Linked DNA regions of Homo sapiens: region 1 is linked to region 2. The links come from fine-mapping of genetic effects on gene expression. A gene starts in region 2. The other region holds a variant in brackets. All regions are shown on one strand. Distances are from middle to middle.

Evidence for each region. PIP is the estimated chance that this variant, and not a neighbour inherited with it, causes the effect.
Region 1: its variant is the best candidate, but not a certain one, in a credible set for the expression of ST6GALNAC1 in whole blood (INTERVAL, PIP 0.85).

What each region holds. Positions count from the first base shown.
Region 1 is chr17:76,689,049-76,694,428 of GRCh38, reverse strand. All of the region lies in intron 1 of MXRA7 (matrix remodeling associated 7), which reads left to right. Among named protein-coding and RNA genes, the nearest start is that of MXRA7, 19 kb to the left of the region's middle. The variant C/A (reference allele first, on the strand shown) is at 2,734.
Region 2 is chr17:76,641,113-76,646,492 of GRCh38, reverse strand. It overlaps ST6GALNAC1 (ST6 N-acetylgalactosaminide alpha-2,6-sialyltransferase 1), which reads left to right and starts at 2,736. Exons shown (of 9, transcript NM_018414.5): 1 at 2,736-2,985. The coding sequence starts at 2,855.

The DNA of each region.
Region 1 (5,380 bases), 48 kb before region 2:
GGCTATCCAACCCTTGACTTCAGCAGAGCTGAGATTTGATGCAGGCAAATTTGAGATGTTCTTGGCCTGCAAAGTCTGAGTGTGGTGAGTGGTGGACAGGAGAGGTGTCAGTGGATGGCGGACACCGTGGTCCAGGGGCTGTGGGAGTTGGAATGGAGCGGTTCTCAGGCAGGGAAAGGCAGGGTGGAATGGCCTCAGGACAAGCACATGGTAGGGGAGGGGGCTCTCCAACGAGTCTCTCCACCCGGGCCCACTCTAGGCAGCTCACTGCTCTGGTCCCAGAGGGTCCTTGTCCCCCAAGCAGAAATTGGGCTCCTGGGCCTATGCCCCCGCCCATCCAGATAAGTAGATGGAAGGGGGAGGGTTTGACCGCCCCAACTGGGGCCACGGGATTCAAGGGACAACTTCCAAAAGAACAGGGGATTTCTGCACAGACAACAAAATAAATGGCCAATTGAGCAGTGTTTTCAAGCTTTTTTTAATTAGGTGTCACAATAAGAAAGAAATTTTAAATTACATCCTGTATATAAAGTCACACAGCTACACCAGAAGTTTTTTGTTGTGTTGTTGTTTTGTTTTCTTTTGTTTGAGACAGGCTTTCACTCTTTCACCTAGGCTGGAGTGTAGTGGTGTGATCTCGGCTCACTGCAGCCTTGACCTCCTGGGCTCAAGTGATCCTCCCACCTCAGCCTCAGCTGGGACTACAGGCACATCCCACCATGCCCAGCTAATTTTTGTAATTTTTTTGTAGAAATGAGGTTTGACATGTTGCCCAGGGCGGTCTCAAACTCCTGGGCTCAAGCAGTCCACTTGCCTCAGCCTCCCAAAGTGCTGGGATTACAGGCGTGAGCCACCTCACCTGGCCCCAGAAGTTTTATAAACCAGTATCTAACTCTACCACACACAAAACACTGTTTGTCTTTAATTTCTTTTTCTTTTTTTTTTTTTTTTTTGAGACAGATCTCAAAAAAAAATCCAGTCTGTTGCCCAGGCTGGATTGCAGTGGCGTGATCTCAGCTCATTGCAACTTCCGCCTCCCAGGGTCCAACGATTCTCCTGCCTCAGCCTCCCAAGTAGCTGAAGCAGTCGTGCACCACCACACCCAACTAATTTTTGTATTTTTAGTAGAGACGGGATTTCCCCATGTTGGCCAGACTGGTCTCGAACTAATGACCTCGTGATCCATCCGCCTCGGCCTCCCAAAGTGCTGGGATTACAGGCATGAGCCACCGCGCCCAGCCTTGTCTTTTATTTCATTCTGGGATACAGGGGTGTCCCCAGAGTCTTAGTGCAGTTTTAATAAATAACTTCAGATGTTTAAATGTACAAACCTACAAAACATCAGTTGAATATTTACTTATTTAAATTTCTTTTCCACTTAGTTTCCTGACAGTCAAGTGCTAGATTTTTTCATTTTAATTCTCCGCATGTGCTAGTGTCTGGAGGGACAGGCAGGCAAAGGACCCCTTTCCTGGGCTGAATTGACCTCCCTTGAGGTCACGTGTGCACAAAATCCAGTTCTTTGGAACCTGGTGAAGCTGGAATCACCAGTGCAATCTTTTCCCGTCACTGACCAACAGTCGATAAAAGGTTTTTCGAAGTTTGAACAACTAGAGCCATGTATAGCACTAGAGGGGGTACTGTAAGAATCTGAGTGAGAGATATCAAGGTATTTTAAATGTAAATAACCTTTCAAATGTCATTTTTTGGTACATTTGTAGTATCTATACTTCTGAAGTTATTAAAGCCTCAAACTTCACCAAGACTTTGGTCGCCCATTTTTTTTTTTTTTTAACAATACTAGTAAGGCCTTCTCATTTGCTTTCCTGACCCATCAATGGGTCATGACCACAGCTTTTTAAAAATCAGACTTCCAGGCCGGGCGCGGTGGCCCACACCTGTAATCCCAGCAGTTTGGGAGGCCGAGACGGGCGGATCACCTGAGGTCGGGAGTTCGAGACCAGCCTGACCAACATGGAGAAACCCCATCTCTACTAAAAATACAAAATTAGCCAGGTGTGGTGGCACATGCCCATAGTCCCAGCTACTCGGGAGGCTGAGGCAGGAGAGTCGCTTGAACCTGGGAGGTGGAGGCTGCAGTGAGGCAAGATCGTACCATTGCACTCCAACCTGGGCAACAAGAGTGAAACTGTCTCAAAAAAAAAAAAAGAAAAAATCAGACTTCCAAAGTCAAGTACAATTTTTTTTTTCTTTTGGTGACAGGGTCTTACTCTTGCCCAGGCTGGAATGCAGTGGCACCCCCATGGCTTACTACAGCCTCAACCTCTTGGGCTCAAGCGACGCACCTGCCTCGGCCTCCCAATGTGCTGTGATTACAGGTGTGAGCCACTGTGCCTGGCCCAGAATCTAAATGTGTACCAGCCTCTCTGTGCTCAGGAGGGCTTGGGCACGTCAGCTGATACTGGGTCCTTTGGGGATACGGATCTGCCCTGGCTCATGGACTCCTCGCCCTGGAGTGCAATTATTTGTTTGTCTTTCCTACTGGACCACGAGCTCCGTAAGGCAGGGACTGTGCTCATTGTTGCTGTTGTTTTTCATTTAATCTTTGTGTCCTTTGCACATAATAGGAGAACTGGCCTCCTGTCTATTCTTGATATTGGGCTTAGTTCCGGGGCCGTGCCCTGAATAGGTCAGTGACTGTTTGCCTGTCATTAAAGAGAGACATCAACCATGAGAAAAACCAACTGTTTTTCTGTCCATGCACACAACACT[C/A]CACAGAACCCTTCACTTCTGATACCAAATATGCAGCCAGCCCCACCCCTGCAACCAACACCTTCTCCAGCCACCCAGACACCAAGTGGGTGTCCTCCCGTTCAACTCTGACATTAACTGCCTGGAATCAGTGCAGACCCCACAGGTTAGGGCCCAGTCCCACAGACTGCCCCCTACTTCAGGGGCCAATCACAAGTATCAGGTCCCCTCGTTCCCCACACTTTGGTCCTACTTGCCTACAAATCAAGGGTTCCATGAACCCCTCCTCAAGTTGAGTAATTTGCTACAGCGTCTTACGGAGCTCAGGGAAGCACTTATGTTAACTGGTTTATTAGAAAGGAAGTGATAAAGGCTACAGATGAACAGCCAGATGGAGGTACCTAAGTAGAGTAAGGTCCAGTAGGGTCCTGAATGCAGGAGCTTCCGTCCCCATGGAGTTGGGGTACGCTACCCCCTGCGCACGGGAATGCATTCAGCAGCCTGGAAGCTCTCCAAACCCTATCGGGATGTTGACGGAGGCCTCATCACATAGGCGTCATCGATTCTTAACTCAATCTCCAGCTCCTCTCCAGTCTCTGGAGGAAGCTGGGGGGTGGTGGGGCTGAAAGTTCCAAGCTCCTCATTGCAGCTTGATCTCTCTGGTGATCAGCCCACCCAGGAGTTACCTCATTAGAACAAAAGACACTCCTGTCACCCGGGAAATTCCAACGGACTTAGGAGCTCTGTGCCAGGGACTGGGATCAAAACCAAATGTTAGAACAAAACATGCTGCTAGCACCCCTGTAACTTAGGAAATTCAAGGGACTTAGGAGCTCAGTGTCAGGGCTGGGCATGGTGGCATGCACCTGTGATCCCAGCTATTCCAGAGGCTGAGGCAGGAGGATCGCTTGAGCCCTGGAGGTCAAGACTGCAGTGAGCCGTGATTGCACCACTGCACTCCAGTCTGGGCAACAGAGCAAGATCCTGTCTCAAAAAACAAACAAAATAAAAACTGTGTCAAGAACTGGGGGCCGAAACCAAATATATATATATTTAGGATGTTACATTCTTTCTACTTTTTTTTTTCCAAGTGATCCTTCTGCCTCAGCCTTCTAAGTAGGTGGGATCACAGGTGCGTGCCACCATGCACAGCTAATTTTTAAATTTTCAGTAGAGGCGAGGTGTGCACTATGTTGCCAGGCTGGTCTTGAACTTCTGGGCTCAAGCAGCCCTCCCACCTCAGCCTCCCAAAGTGCTGAGATTGCAGGCATGAGCCACCACACCTGGCCTCTTACTTTTTTTTTCTTTTTTAGAATATATAAGAAAATAAATAAAGAAAAAATGGGGTCTTTGGATCTGACTGTCCAAAGACACCATTAGCATTTAAAAAATATATTTAGTCATTCATGCATATTAATGGAAAGTCCAAATTATACTGAACTCTATAAGACGGAAAGGAAAAGCTGCCCCCCAAGCTCCTTTCCCAAGAGGTAGCCACTGCTGACAGTTTCTCGTGGGCCCTTCCAAAAAACAAACCTTTTCTCTGCATTTTCGAGCACATGCGTGCATTTCCACTTTGCCATTTACAGCAAGATGACTGCGCTGCTCACGTGGGGCTGCTGCTTGCATTTTTCCCTCGATTTATCTTGATGTACTTTTCATGTCAGCACCTATCAACGCCTCCTTTTTTTTTTTTTTTCTTTTTTTAAGATGCAGTCTTGCTGTGTCACTAGGCTGGAGTGCAATGGCGCAATCTTGGCTTACTGCAACCTCCACCTCCCGGGTTCAAGCGATTCTCCTGCCTCAACCTCCTGAGTAGCTGGGATTAAAGGCACCTGCCACAACACTCGGCTAATTTTTTTTTGTATTTTTAGTAGAGACGGGGTTTTGCCATGTTGGCCAGGCTGGTCTCGAATTCCCAACCTCAGCTGATCCACCCACCTAGGCCTCCCAAAATTCTGGGATTACAGGCGTGAGCGACCGCACCCGGTCCCCAGTTCTGTCTTTTCAACTGCACGCGGTCAGAGTCATTATATAAAAATCCTGATGGACATTTCTCCAGTCTGGAGCAGATCCCTAGAAGTGGGTTTGCTGTGTCAAATGGAGCGGCTCCTCTTCCTGCCCCCGGAAGAGGCCTGCCCACTCCGACCTCAGCCATAGAGATACTTTGCTGTGCAAAATTTGGGAAACGTCAGGACACACAGGCACCACTTCGCCATAGATAGCACTAAGTCTGTGTGTACAAAGTGCCCAACAGGGAAGACGCTGTGTTGCCTGCGCAGCTCCCCCCAGGCAGCATTTTGTGTAGTCAAGGAAGTCCCTCAGGCCAGGCACAGTGGCTCACTCCTGTAATCCCAACACTCTGGGAGGCCGAGGCAGGCGGATCACCTGAGGTCAGGGGTTCGAGACCAGCCCGGCCAACATGGTGACATGCCATCTCTACTGAAAACACAAAAAAATTAGCTGGGCTTGGGTGGCGGGCGCCCGTAATCCCAGCTACTCGGGAGGCTGAGGCAGGAGAATCGCTTAAACCCAGGAGGCAGACGTTGCAGTGAGCCGAGATCGCGCCACTGCACGCCAGCCTGGGCAACAAGAGCCAAAACTCTGTCTCAGAAACACACTCAGAAAAAAACAGAAACCAAACAAACAAAAAGTCACTCAGAGGAGC
Region 2 (5,380 bases):
CTCATGAGTAGAATCAAATCTTTAGCACATTTTTATGTCTTCTATCTATTTGAGTAATGATTTTACCTTTTACTGAAAATTATCTTTTAACAACTCTTATCTGCATGTAAGTTCTCACATGTCCCATCAGCTGATGTATACTAAAGTTCAAAGACTCAAGCTCAAAGCTTTAGTTTAAAAAGGAGAAAAAGTTTTTGCCATTGAGCTTAAGAGAATAAAATAAAATAAAACAATAAAAAGGAGAGAAAGGTAGATCTTACCAAACACAAAATTGTGACGATGTTTAAAAAATAATTGGCAGCTGGGCGTGGCGGCTCACATGAAGTGCTCCCAGCACTTTGGGAGGCTGAAGTGGGGTCGCTTGAGACCAGGAGATCAAGACCAGACTGCACGACATAGCAAGACCCCCCCATCTCTACAAAAAAAATTTGCCAGGTGTGGTGGCACCCACCTGTAATCCCAGCTACTTTGGAGGGAGGCTGCCGCAGGAGGATCTTGTGAGCTCAGGAATTCAAGGCTTCAGTGAACTATGATTGCACCACTGCACTCCAGCCTGGATGACAGAAAGAGGCCTTGTCTCAAAAAGCAAAAACAAAATAATTGGAAAGTCAATTTCTCCTAAAACACACACTTCTCTGGATCCCACATTCTGCCCAGGCACATGCTACAGCAGCAGTGGGCTGGAACCTGAGAACCAGGAAACTAGGACTCTGGATTATCCTGCCACACCAGTTGGCCACAAGGTCTTCAAGTTCAACCTGCCTCTAATGTGGCGAGAGGGACAGATTGTCCACAGTAGCTCAGCTTGCACCCAGGAGCTCAGCTGGATCTCCATGCCCTGCGGAAGGCAGCGAGCACTGACAGCCAGTGCCTTCTTCAGAACACAGGGCACGATGAAAGAGATACTCTATTTAGTCACACTAGTACTGTGGGTAAGAACATGCCTTTTCACTGTGCACTTATTTGCATAGCGTTGCAAGCAGGCACCAGGATACAGGAATATAATTGTACATGTCAAGTGCATAAAGGAACTCAGGATAAGGGGCCAGTTAGGACAAAGAGTTATGACTTGATACAGATCAATTCAGAAAATGTTTATAGAGTTAACATATGAGCATCTGTAGGTTAGGCACGGTGAGAGAGAAAGAGAGAGGTTGAGTCAGTACTAACAGAGATGTTTCTCCTTGCCACCATGACTTGAAACAGTGCTGTGAGTTGCAGTGTACAGTAGGGGATAAAGGAAACCATCAGTCGTCTGTATTACCCTCAGCTGCTCAGACGTATGTTCCTGCCTTTTTCGTCCTCCTTGAGGAAGGTGGTTTAATCATTTATCGGTGCGTGCCATGGGTGAAGGCCAAGAGCCTTGTGTACAGAACTGAAAACTGTACGTTAGGAGAAATGCCCACCGCCAGGTGTGAACAGTGAGCCCAGGCTCCAAAACCTCTCCCACAGTTCAACACCCTGGACAATATTTTTATAAAATTACTAACTCACAGTACTTTATGGAGGGCTGCTTCTCTGAATTTTTAAAGTTTTCTACAAATGGTCTTGATGTTTTTCCTCTGAGGTGTACTTTTTTTTCCCAAGAATTATGTGGGTTTTGTTTTGCATTGCTTTGATCAAGGTAGAGTTAATGATTTCTCGTAGGTGCTACTAAGCAGTGGATACGAATGCAATCGGCCAGGCACGGTGGCTCACACCTGTAATCCTAGCACTTTGGGAGGCCGAGGCAGGTGGATCATGAGGTCAGAAGATCGAGACCATCCTGGCCAGCATGGTGAAACCCCGTCTCCACTAAAAATACAAAAATTAGCCGGGTGTGGTGTTGGGTGCCTGTAGTCCCAGCTACTCAGGAGGCTGAGGCAGGAGAATCACTTGAGCCCGGGAGGCGGAGGTTGCAGTGAGCCAAGATTGCGCCACTGCACTCCAGGCTGGCAACGAGTGAGAATGTCTCAAAAAAAAAAAAGAAAGAAAAATGCAATCATGGCTGGGCATGGTGGCCGATGCCTGTAATCCCAGCACTTTGGGAGGCTGAGGTGGGAGGATCACTTAAGTCCAGGAGTTTGAGACCAGCCTGGGCAACATACTGAGACCCATCTCTATTTCTTAAAAAAAGAATGCAATCTCTAGGTCAGTTGGATCTGGACCCCAAGCCAGTGGCTCACCATGTGCTCTTGGGCTGGCAGCTTGTTCTTGGAGGCCATTTCCTCCTCTGTCAAATGGAGGTGATGACAGTACCCAGCCCCTAGAGTGGCTGTGAGGGTTCCATGAGTGCCTGTGAAGACTCCCCACTGCCCAGCTCAGAGTGAGCCCTCATACGTGCTGGTCATTGTTGTAATGGTCATGATTTCAGAAGAGAAACAGAGAAGGTTGAGCTAAAGTGTTGAACATGTGTGTTGGGTGCCTACCACAAACAAAGCCCTGTGCATGGTGGCCTCAAGGTGTCTTCATGATAATCCCAAAAGGAAGATAACTGCTTTTTTCCATTTATATGGCGGCAGATGGGTTAAGTAACCTGACCAAGATGAGACTGCATATAATGTGGTTATATTTCTCATAAAGCTTGACTTTCAGATATTGGCTTCAAAGACAAAAAAGGAAGGTAAACATGTTTGAACACAAGGAGTTTCCCTTCCTTTAAGCCACGCCAGCTTATAAGCCTTCATACAGCAGTGAAGGCGGTTCCTCCCTTCCCAGGCAGAGACTGATAAACTCAGCACTTGCCGGAGTGGCTCATTGTTAAGACAAAGGGTGTGCACTTCCTGGCCAGGAAACCTGAGCGGTGAGACTCCCAGCTGCCTACATCAAGGCCCCAGGACATGCAGAACCTTCCTCTAGAACCCGACCCACCACCATGAGGTCCTGCCTGTGGAGATGCAGGCACCTGAGCCAAGGCGTCCAGTGGTCCTTGCTTCTGGCTGTCCTGGTCTTCTTTCTCTTCGCCTTGCCCTCTTTTATTAAGGAGCCTCAAACAAAGCCTTCCAGGTAAGATTCTTGTCCTTTCCACTCCTCATATTTCATTCATTTGAGGAAACAGAAAAATGATAGCCCAGGGAGGACTGGGGAAGTCTGAGCCACCTGTGTGTCCACATGGGAGTGTCAGGGGTCAGGAGTGTTCTCAAGAAGCACTGGGAAGAAAGACTAATGGGAAGACTTGCAGGGAACAGAAAGGGTGGCAGTGGGCAACCAAGACGCATGGGATGGACATGTCCAGATACTGTGGGACACGTACAGGAGTTTGAGAACTGATGGGTTAGGTCTGCAGAGTGCAGACAGAAGACATGACTGCTTTCCCCTCTGGGACTGTGAGTAATGGCAGCAGCACTGGGTTAGTTCTTACATGCCATTCTCTACGTCCTGAAGCGAAAGAGCCATGCTGTGTGTTCCACTTGTTTCAGACCCGGACTCACCCTAAGTTTGTCAGTTAAAATGGAGAGCCTCCCTCTTAGGGATGCAGTTTCAATTGTGGACGCCAAGTTAATCCTTCAAAAATACCTTCTAGACCATTTTTCTTAGAAAATACACACATCTCCAGCAGTGAGAGGCCCTCTTTTTTTTTTTTTTTTTTTTGAGACGGAGTCTCACTCTGCTGCCGGAGTGCTGGAGTGCAGTGGCATGATCTCAGCTCACTGCAACCTCCACCTCCCAGGTTCAAGCCTCAGCTTCCTGAGTAGCTGGGACTACAGGCGCATGCCACCAGGCCTGGCTAAGTTTTTGTATTTTTAGTAGAGACAGGTTTTCACCATGTTGGCCAGGCTGGTCTTGAACTCCCGACCTCAAGTGATCTACCCACCTCGGCCTCCCAAAGCGCTGGGATGACAGGCGTGAGCCACTGCGCCCAGCCAATAATTTCATTTCACTGTTCCTAAACGTTGAAAGTAATGCAGGTTCTCATAGAGTTAAAAAAAATACAGAAAGGTGAAGCAGGAAGTGAGGGTCTCCCTATTATACCTCCACCTCTATCCACTCTTCAAGGTGACCACTCTTGACACTTGAGGGTACACGGAATTCTATTATTATGTAGCTAACACTGCTATAGTATTTACTATGAGCTAGCCCCTATTCTAAGTGCTTGATATACGTTAACTCACTAATTCTCATTATTAGGACACTGAGATACACAGAACTGAAGTGATTCTCCCAAGGTCACCCTGCTAGTATGCGGCAGGGCCAAGATTCAAACCCAGGCATTTTGGTGCCATACCCTGTGCTCATTACCTTTATGCTATACAAGCCCGATAGATAGATGATAGATAGATAGATAGATAGATAGGCAGATAGAGAGAGAGAGAGATAGAGAGATAGGCAGATAGATGGACAGATAGATGGATAGATAGATGGAGATATAGATATCTATATATAGTATGGAGATATATATACAATATATACGCTATATATTGATATACTATATGTCAATATGTAGCATGAGAGATATGTATATATAGATATATTGTATATATAGATATAGATATATACACATATATATCATATAGATTTACATATATATGCACAAGAGAGCTTATATATATATCTCATATATACGTATATATACATATATATGTATCTCATGCTACATATTGTTCCACAGGTTGACCTTGTAAGTCACACTATATCATGGACATCTTTCCATGTCGGGACATACAGGTCCACTCCCTTCTTTCAACAGTTGCTTAGCATTCCACAGGGTAGGTACTGTTTACTTAACCAACCCCTATCAAGTTTCTCACATACCTTTGAGCACTTGCGTAAGTGATTTCCGGGTAGATTTCTTGAAGTGGAATTGCCAAGACAATGCATATGTTTACATGAAATGTCAGTGGACACCATTGAATTGTTGTCTCAGAATGCTACACTGACAGGTGCAAGTTTACTTTACCTCCCAGGACCACACTGGCTTTCATTAGGGTTTTGAAGTCTTAATCATCAGATAGGTGAAAGTGTTTCTCTTTTTAATTTGCATTTCTCAGATCACTGATGTATTGAGAATCTTAACTTTCTTAGTCATTTGTACTTTTCTATGAATGACCTGTTCATATCTTTTCTTCCTTTTTATTATTTTTTTCATATTTGTAGGAGCTTTTTGTATATTAGGGATATTAACCTTTTTATCATATATGTTACAATACTTCTAAATGCAGTGGGATAATTTAGGAATCAGAGAGACTGAAGGGTTGAGGAGGATTTATTATCATTATTAAGGTGCACTGGCCCAGTCACATTAACATCCAAAAAAACTGAGCCCCGAACAAAGCGTCAGGTTACCTTTTAAGCATTTCGTGGGGCAGGGGGAGATCTGTGCAGGGGGAAGCATATTACAGAAGCAAGAAACAAAGACAGTTACTCAATTGAGACATGCATTACATCATTTCTTACTTTTCAA